3 separate regions of the Homo sapiens genome follow, and all the other regions are linked to region 3. Evidence: fine-mapped expression QTL. A gene starts in region 3. Each other region holds a variant in brackets. All regions are shown on one strand. Distances are from middle to middle.

Region 1 (6,110 bases), 140 kb before region 3:
GGAGGAGCAGCTGCTGGTGCAGCGGGAGTTGCAGGAGCTGCAGACCATCAAGCACCATGTGCTGCAGCAGCAGCAAGAGGAACGCCAGGCTCAATTTGCACTGCAGCGGGAACAGCTAGCGCAGCAGCGTCTGCAGCTGGAGCAGATCCAGCAGCTGCAGCAGCAGCTGCAGCAGCAGCTAGAGGAGCAGAAGCAGCGGCAGAAGGCTCCCTTTCCTGCAGCCTGTGAGGCACCTGGCCGAGGGCCTCCCCTAGCGGCTGCTGAGTTGGCCCAGAATGGCCAGTATTGGCCCCCCCTTACACATGCAGCCTTCATTGCCATGGCAGGGCCTGAAGGACTTGGGCAGCCTCGTGAGCCTGTGCTGCACCGGGGTCTCCCCAGCTCTGCCTCAGACATGTCACTGCAAACGGAGGAGCAGTGGGAGGCCAGCCGTAGTGGCATCAAGAAGCGGCACTCCATGCCACGCCTGCGGGATGCCTGTGAGCTAGAGTCTGGGACTGAGCCCTGTGTGGTCAGGAGGATTGCCGACAGCAGCGTGCAGACAGACGATGAGGATGGGGAGAGCCGCTACCTCTTGAGTCGGCGACGCCGGGCACGGCGGAGTGCTGACTGCAGTGTGCAGACGGACGACGAAGACAGTGCTGAGTGGGAGCAGCCAGTGCGCCGCCGCAGGTCTCGTCTTCCCCGCCACTCAGACTCAGGCTCTGACAGCAAGCACGATGCCACTGCCTCATCATCCAGTGCTGCTGCCACTGTGAGGGCCATGAGCAGCGTGGGCATCCAGACCATCAGTGACTGCTCCGTGCAGACGGAGCCTGACCAGCTGCCCAGGGTCTCTCCAGCCATCCACATCACAGCTGCCACCGATCCCAAGGTGGAGATCGTCAGGTACATATCGGCGCCAGAGAAGACTGGGCGTGGGGAGAGCCTGGCCTGCCAGACGGAGCCAGATGGGCAGGCCCAGGGTGTAGCCGGGCCGCAGCTTGTAGGGCCAACTGCCATCAGCCCCTACCTGCCTGGCATCCAGATCGTCACCCCAGGGCCTCTGGGCAGATTTGAAAAAAAGAAGCCAGATCCCCTGGAGATTGGGTACCAGGCCCACCTGCCTCCGGAGTCTCTCTCACAGCTTGTGAGCCGCCAGCCTCCCAAGTCCCCTCAGGTCCTCTACTCACCAGTCTCACCCCTGTCCCCTCACCGGCTCCTGGACACCTCCTTTGCTTCCAGTGAGAGGCTGAACAAAGCTCACGTGAGTCCCCAGAAGCACTTCACGGCTGACAGCGCTCTCCGCCAGCAGACGCTGCCTCGCCCCATGAAGACCCTGCAGCGGTCCCTGTCTGACCCTAAGCCCCTCAGCCCCACCGCCGAAGAGTCTGCCAAAGAGAGATTCTCCCTCTACCAGCACCAGGGGGGACTGGGTAGCCAGGTATGGGAACAGGGGCTGTTCCAGGGTGGGACAGGGGTCTCTGCCTAGCCCGAGGGGCCCCCACAGGGAGGGGCTTCTTCTGGGGTGGGAGTAGAGGCATCTCTGGCCCCAGAGGCCCAGGGGAAAGAGTCAATGAGCAGATGCTCCCTGGTGCACATCTGAAAGAGCCTGCAGCCCGGCAGACAGCCTGGCAGATACAGACACACACATGGGCCCCCACAGCCTTCCAGCCACATACCCTACTAGAAGCTTCAGCCTCCTCCCAGCACTGTCCCTTCACCACCCACACCTGGTCCAGCCCCTGCTACCTCCCCCTTTAGGCCTCTTCAGCTCTCACTTCTAGTCTGGACCCCTTCCACTCCAAACTTAATCTATGGGTGTTTCCTAAGAAAATCAGTCATATGAACCTGGCGCGGCTGCTCTCGTCCTCTCAGTCCTGGCCTGGTTTCCATTGCCACACAGGAAGCCCACACCCCTATGGCCTAGCACTAGAGGCCCATCCCAGCGGGCTGCAGTGTGCTCTCTGCCCCAGGGTGTTCTCTGCCCCTACCTGGCCCTCGGTAAATCTGTTTACACATCTGTCTGCTCCCCTAGATAGGGGATTCAGAAGCATAAGCTTACCCTTGGTTGTGGCTTTATTTGCCAGTGATGGATGGGGACTGTGAGAAGTGGCTTGGCTGTGGGCTGCAGCCAAAGTGAGAATAGAGGGTTGTGAGGGCCTAATGCCAACAACTGAGTGCCAGGCTGAGGAGGATGGGCTTTTCCTAAAGACCCTGGAAGCCTCTGGAGGTTTTAGGCATGTGAGATGGGACAAAGCAGATGTTTTGGAAAGTTTCCTGGGCAGAATGTGGGAGGGTGGGCTGAAGGAAGAGACCTGGCAGAGGAGGCAGGAGCCAGAGGCATCGTAAGGTAGATTTGCCCATTTTCAGGGTGTGACACAGAGACGAGAAAAGTGGAGCCTTAGAATGGGGTTTGTGGAGGTGATAATCTTGGGTAGTGAAGTCTTGGTGTATGCAGGCCATATAGGGGTGTGGGTGGGATCAGGACTCTAGGCTGGCAGGGAGGGCAGGTCAGAGAGGCAGGGTGGTCCTGGCTGCAGGCACAGAGGTCCCATGGGCTGGCCATGTGAGACCAGGCCATGATAGGCACTCATGATGCGTGGCCAAAATAAGAAAAGAGACAACAGAGTGAGGGGTTCAAAAGGCTAAATTTATTCCATAAAAGGCCCACCCTGAAATTTTGAGGGCACACTATAATTTTTATTATGACATATGGTGGATGTAGGTGGGAGGTTTTTAGGTAGTTACTTGGCAAGGTAAAAAGTAAGAATCCTATAGGAGTCACTTCCCAGTATATATTGGAATTTGGGTGGTCCATGAAACCCAAGGGCATGGGGCATTCTGGGAAGGCTAGGAGCGAGAGAAAAAGGGAGAAGACAGAGTGAACTACCAGGCAATGTGGACCTTCAGGCAATGCAGAGTGTCTAGGGTAGGCAAGGAGGACCCCATGGTAGGCACTGTTAGGGAACCTTGACCAGGAAGCCATGCTGCTGGAGGTAGGGCTGGATAGGACTTACGGGTGCACTGGTGGCTCCAGAGAACAGCAGGTTGACCGAGGGACATGGAGGGAGCTGGGGACCAGGCCAAGAGCACAGCCCAGAGGGTTTGGCAGAGGGCAGTGCAGGGCACTAGAGGAAGAGGGTGGGCAGGCAGCTGAGGAGCCTTCCACTTTAGAGAGGACTAGGGCAGGATGCAGAATGACTCAGAGCCTGCCACGATTGGCATACAATCTACATGTGTCCCTTCCCATGATCCTCTAGGGAGCCTGGC[G/A]GGCCCAGGACCCTCTCCACTCCATGCCTCCTGTTCATACTCCACTGATCTCAACCCCTGTCAGCTGCTAGGCCCCAAACCCAGAGCCACAGCTGTACTCTTCTTACCTCAATGTGAGGCAGAGGGTGGCAGGCCCATTGGAGATGTGCAGGGGTTCTCAAAGCCATGTGCTGGGCCAGTACAGGACATTGGCATGAAGGGAATCTGCCCGTACCCTCCTGCTTCCCAAAGCTCTGGGAAAGAGAAGGGCTGTAAAATAATCACAGATCTTCCCTCTATGGCAAAGAAACCAAGGCCTATGGGTGGGCAGGGTAGGCCTCCAGGCTGCCTGGTAAATCAGGGCACCAGCAAGATGGAACCCAGCTCCTTCCCCAGCCCAGGCCTGGGTTCTGCCACCCCACACCCCATCAAGTCACCACACCTTGGGTCTCAGTGCTGCCCACCCTTCCCTCTGTCTCAGGTGTCGGCGTTGCCACCCAACAGCCTGGTCCGCAAGGTGAAGCGGACACTGCCCAGCCCCCCTCCAGAGGAGGCTCACCTTCCCCTGGCTGGCCAGGCCTCCCCACAGCTGTATGCAGCCAGCCTGCTGCAGCGAGGGCTGACGGGGCCCACCACTGTCCCTGCTACCAAGGCCAGCCTGCTCCGGGAGCTGGACCGGGACCTGCGGCTGGTGGAGCATGAGTCCACCAAACTGCGCAAGAAGCAGGCAGAGCTGGATGAGGAGGAGAAGGAGATTGACGCCAAGCTCAAGTACCTGGAGTTGGGTATCACACAACGCAAAGAGTCTTTGGCCAAAGACCGGGGTGGCCGTGACTACCCACCCTTGCGTGGTCTTGGCGAGCATCGTGACTACCTATCGGACAGTGAGCTCAACCAGCTGCGGCTCCAGGGCTGCACCACTCCCGCTGGCCAGTTTGTGGACTTCCCTGCCACTGCCGCTGCTCCTGCCACCCCCTCTGGTCCCACTGCCTTCCAGCAGCCCCGCTTCCAGCCTCCAGCCCCACAGTATTCTGCAGGCAGTGGTGGGCCAACTCAGAACGGATTCCCAGCCCACCAGGCCCCCACCTACCCTGGCCCCAGCACGTACCCAGCTCCTGCCTTTCCTCCTGGTGCCAGTTACCCAGCTGAGCCTGGCCTGCCAAACCAGCAGGCTTTCCGCCCCACAGGCCACTATGCAGGCCAAACACCCATGCCAACCACACAGAGCACCCTTTTTCCAGTCCCCGCTGATAGCCGTGCCCCACTGCAGAAGCCACGCCAGACATCGCTAGCCGACTTGGAGCAGAAGGTGCCCACCAACTATGAGGTGATCGCCAGCCCCGTTGTGCCCATGTCTTCAGCCCCATCTGAAACCAGCTACAGTGGCCCAGCAGTGAGCAGCGGCTATGAGCAGGGCAAGGTCCCTGAGGTGCCCCGGGCTGGTGACCGTGGCAGTGTGAGCCAGAGCCCAGCCCCCACCTACCCCTCTGACTCACACTATACCAGTCTGGAGCAGAACGTTCCTCGAAACTACGTAATGATTGATGACATCAGTGAACTGACCAAGGACAGCACCTCTACTGCTCCTGATAGCCAACGGCTGGAGCCCCTGGGGCCAGGCAGCAGTGGGCGTCCAGGGAAGGAGCCTGGAGAACCAGGTGTCCTTGACGGGCCCACACTGCCCTGCTGCTATGCCAGAGGAGAAGAGGAATCTGAGGAGGACTCATACGATCCCCGCGGGAAGGGTGGCCACCTCCGGAGCATGGAGAGCAATGGTCGACCAGCCAGTACCCACTACTATGGTGACAGTGACTACAGGCATGGGGCTCGAGTAGAGAAGTATGGTCCAGGGCCCATGGGGCCCAAGCATCCCTCCAAGAGCCTGGCTCCAGCTGCCATCTCCTCAAAGCGCAGCAAGCACCGGAAGCAGGGCATGGAGCAAAAGATATCCAAGTTCTCGCCTATTGAAGAGGCCAAAGACGTAGAGTCAGACCTGGCGTCCTACCCCCCACCTGCAGTCAGCAGCAGCCTGGTCTCTCGGGGCAGGAAGTTCCAGGATGAAATCACCTATGGGCTCAAGAAGAACGTGTATGAGCAGCAAAAATACTATGGGATGTCCAGCCGGGACGCAGTGGAGGACGACCGCATTTATGGCGGGAGCAGCCGGTCCCGGGCACCTTCTGCATACAGTGGGGAGAAGCTGTCCAGCCACGACTTCAGTGGCTGGGGCAAGGGGTACGAAAGGGAACGGGAGGCTGTGGAGCGACTTCAAAAAGCGGGCCCCAAGCCCTCATCCCTAAGTATGGCCCACAGCCGGGTACGACCCCCCATGCGGAGCCAGGCCTCTGAAGAGGAGAGCCCCGTCAGTCCTTTGGGGAGGCCCCGCCCTGCCGGAGGGCCCCTCCCTCCCGGCGGGGATACCTGCCCACAGTTCTGCTCCAGCCACTCCATGCCTGATGTCCAGGAACATGTCAAGGACGGACCTCGGGCCCACGCATATAAGCGTGAGGAGGGCTACATCCTGGATGATTCCCATTGCGTGGTTTCCGACAGCGAAGGTAATGGCAGCCAGGGGTGATTTCTGCGGATACTCAGCAGCTGGGGGGCCTGCCTACCTGTGGGGCCCTGGGCCCTAAGATGTCCCAGCAGGGTCTGGTCTGGCGCCTCATCTGGTGGGCCCTGCTGCAGGCAGGCTGCCCTTGCCTGCTCCATCTGTGCCCTGGTCCGTGGTTGCGGGAGGGTGGGCTGGGGGCCTGCTGATCTGCTTGTGGCTGTGGCACCCACTCTCTTGGTTTCTTTGCATGGCTTCAGCTAGGCCTCCCCCTGCGGCTAGCCCGGGGGTTGATGGTATTCTGTTTTTGGTCTCTGAAGCGTATCAC
Region 2 (6,110 bases), 43 kb before region 3:
CAAAGTGAGTCCCTGTCTCAAAAATAAAAATAAAAAATAAAAAAACTGCTCTCTCTCCATTTCAGAACACAAATAAAAGCTCTTGTCACTCACGCTAATTTCAATTATCTATAACACTGGTTTTATACATGGAGTTCATCTTAGGTACAAATCTACTACCTTATATTAGCAATATTCACATGTGTCCTATTATTAAAAAAGGGAAAACATGGCAATAAAATTTCATACATCTAGGAAAGGTGAAGCCAAAGCTCTGGTCACAGCATTGACCTTTTTAGATTATCTGGGGGCTTTATTTAGGACCCCCTATCAAAAATGGTTACTAGTGGCCAGGCGCAGTGGCTTACGCCTGCAATCCCAGCACTTTGGGAGGCCGAGGCAGGTGGATCACGAGGTCAGGAGATCAAGACCATCCTGGCTAATACAGTGAAACCCCGTCTCTACTAAAAGTACAAAAAAATTAGCCAGGCATGGTGGCGGGCGCCTGTAGTCAGTCCCAGCTACTCGACAGGCTGAAGCAGGAGAATCGCTTGAGCCTGGGAGGCGGAGGTTGCAGTGAGCTGAGATCGCACCACTACACTCCAGCCTGGGGTGACAGAACAAGACTCCATCTCAAAAAAAAAAAAAAAAAAAAAAGGTTACTAGCTTTAAACAAGAAAACTCTCCAGAGTAAGGAATTATACAACTATGAAATAGCTGCTGGCCATCCACTTCTCCATCAGCCAGGAAGAACACTGGTAATGAGGCTGACATACCTATCAAGGACAGTAACTACCACAGCACGTCTGCAGTTTCATATTGGTGGAGCATTCGTTGTATCCCTGGGAGCCGTAGTTCTCTGTAAATTTGCTGTGGCTGAACCAAGAAAGAAGGCATACCCAGATTTCTACAGAAATTATGACTTCATGAAAGAATTTTAGATGAGAAAAGCTAGTATCTTTCAGAGTGCAAAGTAATTTTGGAATATAAGGAGTTTCTTTGGCCAGGCGTAATGGCTCATGCCTGTAATCCCAACACTTTGGGAGGTGAGGCAGGCAGATCACCTGAGGTCAGGAGTTTGAGATCAGTCTGACCAACATGGTGAAACCTCATCTCTACTAAAAATACAAATATAGCAGGTGTGGTGGCGCATGTCTGTAATCCCAGCTACTCTGGGAGGCTGAGACAGGAGAATCGCTTGAACCCAGGAGGCGGAGGTTACAGTGAGCCAAGATCCAGCCTGGATGACAGAGCGAGACTCTGTCTCAAAAAAAAAAAATACCCAACAGTTTCTTTGGGTTGAATTTCCTATTAGTTTTGTCACTAACCTGTGTTCCTGAACTATGAAACATGAATATGTGGGCTAGCAAATAGTTTATCTTGATAAATAAACAATTAAAAAAAAAATACCTTCTATCTTTCTATGGTATCTCAATGACACCACAAAACTGTTAGGACTCCAAAGCAGTTTTAAATCACTGAATTCTGAGAGGCACTAAAAATCAGATATGGCTAAAATCTGGAGGACTCTTCCTTTGGGGGTGAAATCATTTAAATGCCTTGATGCTTATACTACTCTGAAGATTATCTGAAAATATAGTCAAAGATCAAATTCTTCAGACACAGACACAGATGTATTCAGCTGCAGTTAGAGACTAAGGCAAAACGTCCACCACAAAATACAACTCCAATGAGTTTTATTCTTTTGAGATAATGTGCTGTTACTCCCACATATGGCCAGGGACCAGCTCCAGTTCTCTCCTCCAAGGACCAAGTTCCTAGCATCCTGTGTTCCTATTGGACCTCCATCTCAAGGGCCAAACAGCATATTTCTTATATAGTTAGACATTTAGAAAACAGTGTAAGGAGATTTCAGGGCACAAACTCTACAGAAACTCCCTCTTTCAGACACCACACATCCTGGAGGCAACATAATGACCATCTATTTGAACATCCATCATGTAGATAAAGATTTTATTAGAGTCTTAGACTAGGTGGACAAAACAACAACAACAACAACAAAAAACGACTTTATTAAAGGTTACCCAGAAGCAGATCAGCAACATGGAAATTAGTAGACTATGTGAAGTAAATACGTGAAGAAAACCTATAACAAGGGGTGAACAACCAGCATAATGCCTCACAAAATGCCATCAAGTTTGACTGCTTCAAGCAGATTAGATTCCAGCTGTCTTCCAACCCTCTAGTGAAATACCAGAATTATTGTTTTTTCTTTCTTTCGAGACAGGGTCTCACTCTGTCACCCAGGATGGAATGCAGTGGCACGATCACGGGTTACTACAACTTGAATTCTTGGGCTCAGGCGATCCTTCCCACCTCAGCTTCCTGAGTGGCTGGGACTACAGGCCACCCAGCTATTTTCCCTTCCTTTTTTTTGTAGAGATGAGGTCTCACTTTATTGCCCACGCTGGTCTCCATCTCCCAGCTTCAAGTGATCCTCCTGCCTTGGCCTCCCAAAGTGCTGCAATTATAGGCCTGAACCACCATGCCCAGCCTAATTATTACTGTTAAGTACTTTAAATATTAGAAAAGCACTTCTGTCCACCTCATAGACAACCCATAGTTTCAGAGAGATGGGGACTAACCTTCACCTACGCAAACCCATCAACAACTTCCCAACTTAGAAAAGCAGACAGGTGGAGGCTGGACGCAGTGGCTCAAGCCTGTAATTCCAACACTTTGGGAGGCCGAGGTGGGCAGATCACTTGAGGTCAGGAGTTCAAGAACAGTCTGGCCAACACGGTGAAACCCCGTCTTTACTAAAAATACAAAAATTAGTCGGGCATGGTGGCAGGCACCTGTAATCCCAGCTACTCGTGAGGCTGAGGCAGGAGAATCACTTGAACCCGGGAGGCAGAGGTTGCAGTGAGCCGAGATAGTGCCACTGCACTCCAGCCTGGGCAACAGAGTGAGACTTCGTCTCAAAAAAAAAAAAAAAAAAAAAAGTGAAAAGCAAAAAGCGGAGAGGTGGTTCCAAAGATACATCATTCCTTAAGAGCAGTTTCCAAATTTCTCCAAATTTCTCCACTCCCTCAACTTCCTTTCCTGACTCTCATGTGACATCAGGAATTAAACAGCCTGAACATGCAGAGCTCTCAGGATTCTGGGAGTCAGAAACCATGTGAAAAAATCAATGCCACAATTAACAAATTATGTACCCTTCAATGTGCCAATTCACCTATTTTCCCTGTCAACAGATTTGAGATTACTTATCTACTTCTCAGAGTGAGGTAATATATGAAAAAACACTTTTCAAATATATGCTATACTGATTCAGCTAAAGCAATGCTAACGTTTTAAAGTCTAAAAGTATTGCAAAAAACCTGTAAAACTGGCCGGACGTGGTGGCTCACACCTGTAATCCCAGCACTTTGGGAGGCCGAGGC[G/A]AATGGATCACGAGGTCAAGAGATCGAGACCATCCTGGCCAACACGGTGAAACCCTGTCTCTACTAAAAATACAAAAAATTAGCTGGGCATGGTGGTGGGCGCCTGTAGTCCCAGCTACTCGGGAGGCCGAGGCAGGAGAATCACTTGAACCCGGGAGGTGGAGGGTGCAGTGAGCGGAGATCGTGCCACTGCACTCCAGCCTGGCGACAGAGTGAAACTCCATCTCCAAAAGAAAAAACCTATAAAGTTAATGACCTGGCCGGGCGTGGTGGCTCACTCCTGTAATCCCAGCACTTTGGGAGGCCGAGGCGGGCGGATCACGAGGTCAGGAGATCAAGACCATGGTGAAACCCCATCTCTACTAAAAATACAAAAAATTAGCCGGGCGCAATGGCAGGCACCTGTAGTCCCAGCTACTTGAGAGGCTGAGGCAGGAGAATGGCGTGAACCCGGGAGGCGGAGCTTGCAGTGAGCCAAGATCGTGCCACTGCACTCCAGCCTGGGCAACAGCGCGAGACTCCGTCTCAAAAAAAAAAAAAAAAAAAATTAATAACCTAAGGTTCTCATTAACAACTTAGAAAAAAGGCCAGGTGTGATGGCTTGCACCTGTAAACCCAACATTTCAGGAGACCAAGGCAGGAGGATGACTTGAGGCCAGGAGTTCAAGAGCACCCTGGTCAACAGAGAAAGACTCTGTCTCTACAGAAAAAATGAAAATTAGGCAGGCATGGTGGTACATGCAGTCCCAGTTTGGAGGCTGAGGCACCGAGATTACTTAAGACCAGGAGTTTGAGGTTACAGTAAGCCATGATTGCACCATTGCACTCCAGCCTGGGTGACAGAGTGAAACCCTGTCTCTCTCTCTTTCATTTATTTTTTCTGGTGAGATGGGGTCTCACTGTTGCCCATGCTGAAGTGGCCTGGCACGATCTTGGCTCACTGTAACCTCTGCTTACTGGGCTCAAACGATCCTCCCAGCTCAGCCCTGAGAGTAACTAAAACTACAGGTATGCACCACCATGCCCAGATAATTTTTGTATTTTTTGTAAAGACAGGATTTCATCATGTGGCCCAGACTGGTCTCAAACTCCTGTACTCAAGTGATTCACCCACCTCAGCCTCCCAAAGTGCTGGGATTACAGGCAAGAGCCACAAGCATCTTTAAGAAAGAACAGGCCGGGTGTGGTGGCTCACACCTGCAATCCCGGTACTTTGGGAGGCTGAGGCAGGCGGACCATGAGGTCAGGAGACTGAGACCAACCTGGCCAACATGGTGAAACCCCGTCTCTACTAAAAATACAAAAATTAGCTGGCAAGGTGGCGGGCGCCTGTAATCATAGCTACTTGCCCTACTTGGGAGGTTGAGGCAGAAGAATCACTTGAACCCGGGAGGCAGAGGTTACAGTGAGCCAGGATCGTGCCACTGCACTCAAACCTGGGCAACAGAGCGAGACTCTGTCTCAAAATAATAATAATAATAATAATAATAATCTGAACACTCCTATATCTATTAAGAAAACTGAGTCTGCGATCAAAAATCTTTCCACGAAGAAAACTCCAGACTAGGTTTCACTAGTGAATTCTATCAAACTTTTAAGAAAGAAATATCAATCTTACATAATTTTTTTTCAGAAAACAGAAAGAGAGAGAAAGAGAGTAGTTCCCAACTTGTTTTACGAGGTCAATTATTGCTTTTTTTTTTTCAGACATAATCTTACTCTGTGACCCAGGCTGGAGTGCATGGCACAATCCCAGCTCATGGCAACCTCTGTCTCCCAGGTTCAAGTGATTCTCCTGCCTCAGCCTCCTGAGTAGCTGGGATTATAGGAGCGCACAACCACGCCCAGCTAATTTGTGTATTTTTAGTAGAGACGGGGTTTCACCACGTTGGCCAGGCTGGTCTCAAACTCCTGACCTCAAGTGATCCACCTGCCTCAAGTGATCCACCTGCCTCAGCCTCTCAAAGTGCTGGGATTATAGGCGTGAGCCACCATGCCTGGCCAAGGTCAATTATTTCTTTTTTTTTTTTTTTTTGAGACGGAGTCTCGCTCTGTCACCCAGGCTGAAGTGTAGTGGCGCAATCTCGGCTCACTGCAAGCTCCGCCTCCCGGGTTCACACCATTCTCCTGCCTAAGCCTCCCCAGCAGCTGGGACTACAGGCGCCCGCCACACACCCGGCTAATTTTTTTTGTATTTTTTAGTAGAGACGGGGTTTCGCCGTGTTAGCCAGGATGGTCTCGATCTCCTGACCTCGTGATCCACCCGCCTCGGGCTCCCAAAGTGCTGGGATTACAGGTATGAGCCACCGCGCCCGGCCAAGGTCAATTATTTCTAATAACAAAACCTAAAAAAGAACCTTAACAAAATAAATAAGAAAAAAGATTTTAGAACAATGTCCTTCATGAATACAGATACAAAAATCTTCAAAAATTTTTAGCAAAACAATTCCAATGATATATAGAAAGAATCCCTCATGACAAAGTGGGAAATGCAAGGTTGATTAAACATCTAAAGAATCAATCAGTATTACTACTCATCATATTAACAGAAATAAGGAGAAAAGCCATAAGATGTAATCATCTCAATAAATACAGGAAAAAAACCTGACAAAATTCAGTACCCATTCATAATTAAAAACTCTCAACAGGTTGGGTGTGGTGGCTCACGCCTGTAATCCTAACACTTTGGGAGGCTGAGGCGGGAGGATCACTTGGGGTCAGGAG
Region 3 (6,110 bases):
AGGTAGGAGGATTGCTTGAACCCCAAGAGATCGAGGCTGCAGTGAGTCATGATTGTGCCACTGTACTCCAACCTGAGTGACAGAGCAAGACCCTGTCTCAAAAAAAAAGAAAAAAGAAAAAAAAAGTTGTCTACATCCAACAAGCAAAAGGAATCCTTTATGATAGAAATACAAATACTGGTTACCGTTGGGAATATCAGTTGGATAGGGCACCAGGTGGCATCCAGGAGTTGCTGAGGATGTTCTATATCTGGGTGGCAGCTGCACAAGTGTCTACAGATTTTAACATTTACTGGGCTGTAACTTTGAGATCTGTCTATTTATTGTATTTATATGTCAGTTTTTTTAAGTTTTCTGGCCAGGCACGGTGGCTTATGCCTGTATGGGAGGCTGAGGCAGGAGGATCGTTTGAGATCAGGAGTTCGAGACCAGCCTGGACAACATGGTGAAACCCTGTCTCTACAAAAAAAAAAAAAAAAAAAATTAGCTGAGTGTGGTGGCACATGCCTGTAGTCCCAGTTACTTGAGAGGCTGAGATAGGAGGGTCACTTGAGCCCCAGAGATGGAGGCTGCAGTGAGCCAAGATCATGCCACTGCACTCCAGCCTGGGTGACAGAGTGAGGCCCTGTCTCAAAAAAAAAAACAAAAACGGTTGTCTTTATTTGCCATCTCCAGTTCTTCAGTCCTCACTCTCTTCTCCACACACTCTAATCAGGCTTGTCCCTCTCTACACAAAACTGCCCTTGTCAGGGTTCCCAGTGACCTATGCACTGCCGAATCCAGTGGTTTGTTCTTCACCCTCACTGCCTAGGCAGCATTCAATGCTTGCTCCCCTTGGGTCCTGAGTCCCCACATTCTCAGATTTCTCCTGGCTGTTCCTGCTCAGCTTCTTTGATAGCTCTGCTTCATATCTCCCCTACCTCCACCTCATGGAATGTCCCAGGGCACAGTCCCGATTGCTGTCTCCCTCTGACTACACTGATTTCCTCCCACCCCACCTTATCCAGGCCTATGGCCTTACATACCATCCATTCACTCACTATGCCTCCCAGATCCAAGGCTCCAGTGCTGATCTCTCTCCTGAAGTCCAGAGTCATACACCTAGCAGCTGACTCTGCAACTCCTCTTGGATGTCTAACAGGCATCTCAAGGGTTACGTGTCCATAAATGATCATTGGATTTTCCTCTCCAAACCCACTCTTCTCCAGTCTTTCCCAGATCAGTTTATGGCAATTTCATCCAACCAGCTGTTAATGCCAGAAATGTAGGAGTCATGCTTGATGCCTCTTTTCCTGCCCACATCCATGCATCAGCAAGACTTGATTTTAGTTCCAAAACATACCCCAAAGTGACCCCCTTCAGTGCACCTGCCCTGCCCAGGCCTAGGCCCTCCCCTTCGTTGCCTGGATGAGGGCAGGGACTTCCACTCTTATTGCAGAATCCTTTTCTGAAAGCAGCTGGGATTATCTAAACAAGGGCTAGCCCAGGTCATTCCTGCTCAAAGGCCCCCATTGCTCCTCATCACACCAAGAACAAAACCCACATTCTGCTCTAAGGCCGTTAGAGCCTGGTTTTGCTGACCTTTTCCCTCCTGCCACCACCACCAATCACAGACACCTGGGCCTTCTTTATGTTTGGCCCTGTCCAGCTCCTGTCCGTCGGGGTCTCTTCCCTGGCTGCTCCTTCTGCCTAGAATGTTCTTCTTCTCCTTCTTCTCCTTCTCCTTCTTCTCCTTCTCCTCCTCCTGCTTCTTCTTCCTTTCTTTTTTTTTTGAGACGGAGTCTCACTCTGTCGCCCAGGCTGGAGTGCAGTGGCGCGATCTCCGCTCACTGCAAGCTCCGCCTCCCGGGTTCACGCCATTCTCCTGCCTCAGCCTCAGGAGTAGCTGGGACTACAGGCGCCCGCCACCACGCCCGGCTAATTTTTTTTGTATTTTTAGTAGAGACGGGGTTTCACCATGTTAGCCAGGATGGTCTCGATCTCCTGACCTCGTGATCCGCCCGCCTCGGCCTCCCAAACTGCTGGGATTACAGGCGTGAGCCACCGCGCCCGGCCAGAATGCCCCTCTTCTTGATTGCATCTTGATGTCACCTCCTGTGAGACTGACTTTCCCCAAGCTAGCCCACGGCCCTCATTCCCTGGTATTTTCCTGTTGCTGGTATGTCCAGTCTGTCTGCAGCTACACTACCCTTGAGCCTAGCCTGTGTTGATAGAGCAGCCTCAGCACCGACCCTCAGTCTGCACCTGGTACCGGCAAAGGGAATGCCGACGGTCGCGCGTCGCCGCTGGACTCGCGACTAGCCAAGCACTCCCCACTAGAGGGCAGTCCCGTCTAGCTCGGTTGGGACGCGGCTGAGGCCCCGCCGGTGCGCTGCCACAAAGTCCCGCCCTCTCTTGAGTCCTCAGACGGGCTGAACCCCACTTCCATCCCGTTCAGGGAGTGCCAAGGCCAGCCTCACGAATGGGTCCCGTGGGTCAGGCCCCGAGGGTCCACAACCTCTCTGGGTCCGACCATCCGGGGTGCTCTGCCTATGTGCGGACGCAGCACGGCGCCCCGTGAGAGGGACCGCTATTTCACCATTGAACAAACGGGGAGGATGAGGCCCCCGCACGGAGGCGACCTGTCCTGCGTCACGCAGCAAACGCAGGGTCCACTCAACAGTCTGGGGGCTCGGGGGGTCCCCGTACCGGCCCCGTCCGGCTTCCAGTTATGACCCCGCCCTTCCCACCCAGAACCGCGGCGGAGTCGGGAGGGACGCCGGGCTTTAGCCCCGCCCCCTTTGGCCGCGGGGCCGGGGCGGGGCGCGGCTGCCAGATGTCGGGGCGGCGGCGGCGGGAGCTACGGAGAGCGAGGAGTCGCGCAGGCAGGCGGAGGCTGAGGGCGCCGCTGGCCGGCCCTCCCAGCCCTCTCCGCGCGGCTCCGCCGGGGTTCCAAGAGGAGCTAGTAGGTTCGGTGGGGGCCCTGGCATGGACATGCACAGCGCTCGGCTTGACAGCTTCCTTAGCCAGCTCCGCTGGGAACTGGTGAGGCTCGGGAGCGGGTGTGGTTAGTGAGGACGCGTGCGGGATGCCAGGCTGCCGCCCGGCCGGAACAACAGACGGGTGCGGGGTGGCTCCAGCGTGCCGGTCCGAGGCGGGGTGGGGGCGGCGTGGCGCATATGGCTCAGATGGCCCGCGTCGGGTTTCGGACGGTTGGGAACTGAGCTGAGCATCAGATAACAGCATCCAGCTGGCCGTGCTGCTGGAACGGCGCGGGAGGAGAGAGTGGAAGGGGGACTTCTTTGGGGGCGGGGCATGGGGCGGCAAGGGACTAACGAGGTGCTGGCGCTGCTGTGAACGCCCCCTACTTCAGGCTGGCCTATGCCTCCCTTCTCTACCCCTCACCTAGCAAGCGCTCTTTCTGTGAAAGACGCTTTGGGCTTTGGGAGCTGAATCCCCCAATAGGCACGGGATGCCCCTCCAGTCCTGGGCAGGACCTACTTCCCCGTTCAGGCCCGCAACCCTGCCTGCCTGCCCGCCCGCCCTGGTGGCGGGTGCCGACTTGCCCGGCCCTGCATGCTGCAGCCTGCCAGACTGCCACCAGGTCGGTGGATGAGAACCACACCAGCTTCGAGTGCCAGCACCCCTATGCCTGCCCTGTGCTCACTAACACCCTGCTGCCCAGGCCAGCAGGCCTATCTAACCTTCCTGGACCCTCTGTTCTCTGGGCTGGCCTGGTGACAAGTGATACCTCTCCGACTTCTGCCCTCTCTTCCCCTCAGTTGTGTGGTCGGGACACAGGCTCACCCTCAATGCCTGGTCCCCTGCAGCCAACCTCCCAAACTGGCCCAGATGTGCAGCCCAGCCACCAGCTTAGGGCCTCGGGTGCCTTGGAAGAGGACTCAGTCTGCTGTGTGGAGGAGGAGGAAGAGGAGGAGGAGGAAGCAGTGGTGACAGAAGACAGGGATGCAGCCTTGGGAGGCCCCAGGGAGCATGCCCTGGACTGGGACTCTGGCTTCTCGGAGGTGTCAGGCAGCACATGGCGAGAGGAAGAACTGCCTGTATCCCAGCGCCCAGCACCCTCAGCACAGCCCCTTCGTAGGCAGTGCCTCTCAGTCAGTGGCCTCCCCATGCCCAGCAGGGCCCCTGTAGCCAGTGTACCACCTGTCCACCATCCACGGCCCAAGTCCACCCCAGACGCCTGCCTGGAGCACTGGCAGGGACTGGAAGCAGAGGACTGGACAGCAGCCCTACTGAACAGGGGTCGCAGTCGCCAGCCCCTGGTACTAGGGGACAATTGCTTTGCTGACTTGGTGCACAACTGGATGGAGCTGCCTGAGACAGGGAGTGAAGGGGGTGACGGAGGTGGGCACCGTGCCCGTGCTCGGCCCCCTCAGTTCCTGCTTGGCCTCTCTGAGCAGCTTCGGCGCCGGCTGGCCAGGGCTCGGCGGACAGCTATGGCAGGAAAGCGGCTGTCATGCCCACCTCGCCCAGAACCTGAACTGCCTGCGGATGTCTCACGCTTTGCAGCTCTCATGAGCTGTCGTAGCCGCCAGCCCATCATCTGCAATGATGTCAGCTACCTCTGACCCTGCCCTCCAGCCTGGGACAATAAAAGCCTTTTTTCTAGACTGTCCTGGCTCCATACCCCTGAGGCACTAAGAGGCAGCCCCAGCCCTGTGAGGCACTGCCCAGGGAGACAAATCTTCTGAAGAGCTTTTTTTCTCTGTGTGAAGGTCCCTGTCATGCCCATGTCACACCCGTGTGCATTAGTGCACTGTTTTCTATCGTCCATCCTCTCTGCAATGCCTTCCTTTAACAAGCATTTATTGAGTGCCTACTGTGGGCTTACAATGCAGGGCTTGGGATCCGGGGCTCCATTGAGCTAGGTGACAGGGTGGCTGCCTTGTCACAGCTCATAGTGCAGAGGTGGGAAGGCAGTGTCCTCGTCGTCACCCTCACAGCTCAGCTCTAGCACCAACACCCGCTGCCCAGGAGCAGGTGCCTGGCCTGTCAGCTGCTGAACCAGTTCTGTCACCCTGGTAGGGGTGGGTTTAGGGGAGATTGGAGAGGTGAGCCATGGCAAGCAGAAGGCAGCCTGGCATGGACTAGAGAGGGTGCTGGCAGGCCGTCAGGAGCCCAAGCCAGGAGCAGGAGCTGCTCAAGACAGGAAACATCTGAAACTATTTTAGGAGCAGCTGATGAGGCAAGCAGGAGGCAGGAAGCTATGGGTCCCTTGGGAGTGGGCTGTGAAAGGGGGGCTGTGCAGCATGTGGGGAGCCCATGGGGCTGGCCAAATAGGCAGCTCCTGAAGACTCCTCCTCAGGCTCTCGGCCCTCACCCCACCTCCAGCCTGTTTGCTGGCTCCATTTGGGGAAAGAATGCTTGGGAAGGTGTGAGGGGCCCAGAATGGGGCTGGGAAGACAAAAGGCAGTGTGGTCCCTAGCCCCAGCCTCCAGGGACTGGTGGGGCCTGTCTAAAGCCCCAAGTGGGCTCACCTGAGGGGCAGGTGCTGGGCCTGCTTTTCAGGTGACCATCCGGCCGCATAGAGCAGGGCTGAGCCGTGCAGCAGGATCCTCACCCTCAACCCGTGCTGCTCCTAGAGGAGAAAGGTCAGACACCAGCTGGGCCGGGCTGGGCTGAGCCTGGGGGTTGGGGTAGCAACAGGGCACACCTGAAGATGAGCCAGCAGCGACTCCAGGGTCCTCTCAGGCTGCCCAGCTGGTACCTTCAGACGGTCCCAAGAGGTCCACTTCAGGTGATGGAACTGGGATGAGGTAGAGGAGGAGTCAGAGACTTCTTACCTCCCCCCAACCCCCATCCCAGTTACCAGCAGCCTTTCCTAGGGGAAGAGCTGGACTAGCAGGAAACAGGAGCCAGGGGGTGGGGGGTGGGGGGGAGGTGGGATCTGGGCCCAGAGTCTCAGCCCCCTCCCCGTCCAGGCCGGGGCCAGCACAGGAAATGGGGCTATGGGGCCCGCACAGGGAAACAGACGATCCATCACATGGGCCAGTTGTGAGAGTGGGGGATGAGGGGGTGGTGCTTCCTGAGGAAACCCAGAGCAGGGCCCCTGCAGCCTCTGATAAAGCTGCTTGTTCCTCAAAGACAAGGCTGGGAGCTGGGGGGCACAT

What was found. PIP is the estimated chance that this variant, and not a neighbour inherited with it, causes the effect. A credible set is the group of variants that fine-mapping cannot tell apart.
Region 1: its variant is the best candidate, but not a certain one, in a credible set for the expression of INKA1 in skeletal muscle (GTEx, PIP 0.75).
Region 2: its variant is the best candidate, but not a certain one, in a credible set for the expression of INKA1 in whole blood (TOPMed, PIP 0.54).

What each region holds. Positions count from the first base shown.
Region 1 is chr3:49,656,774-49,662,883 of GRCh38, forward strand. BSN (bassoon presynaptic cytomatrix protein) reads left to right here. Exons shown (of 12, transcript NM_003458.4): 5 at 1-1,423; 6 at 3,713-5,789; 7 at 6,103-6,110. Among named protein-coding and RNA genes, the nearest start is that of APEH, 15 kb to the right of the region's middle. The variant G/A (reference allele first, on the strand shown) is at 3,253.
Region 2 is chr3:49,757,701-49,763,810 of GRCh38, forward strand. All of the region lies in intron 1 of IP6K1 (inositol hexakisphosphate kinase 1), which reads right to left. It also overlaps the pseudogene COX6CP14. Among named protein-coding and RNA genes, the nearest start is that of IP6K1, 26 kb to the right of the region's middle. The variant G/A (reference allele first, on the strand shown) is at 3,387.
Region 3 is chr3:49,800,420-49,806,529 of GRCh38, forward strand. INKA1 (inka box actin regulator 1) reads left to right here and starts at 2,842. Exons shown (of 2, transcript NM_203370.2): 1 at 2,842-3,024; 2 at 3,762-4,611. The coding sequence starts at 2,974. The coding sequence ends at 4,568. It overlaps UBA7 (ubiquitin like modifier activating enzyme 7), which reads right to left. Exons shown (of 24, transcript NM_003335.3): 22 at 5,654-5,746; 23 at 5,478-5,578; 24 at 4,790-5,018. The coding sequence ends at 4,889. It overlaps MIR5193 (microRNA 5193), which reads right to left and starts at 5,826; the gene lies at 5,718-5,826. It also overlaps a transcript of CDHR4 not described here. RefSeq lists silencers at 2,239-2,288, 2,679-3,118 and enhancers at 5,797-6,091, 6,078-6,110.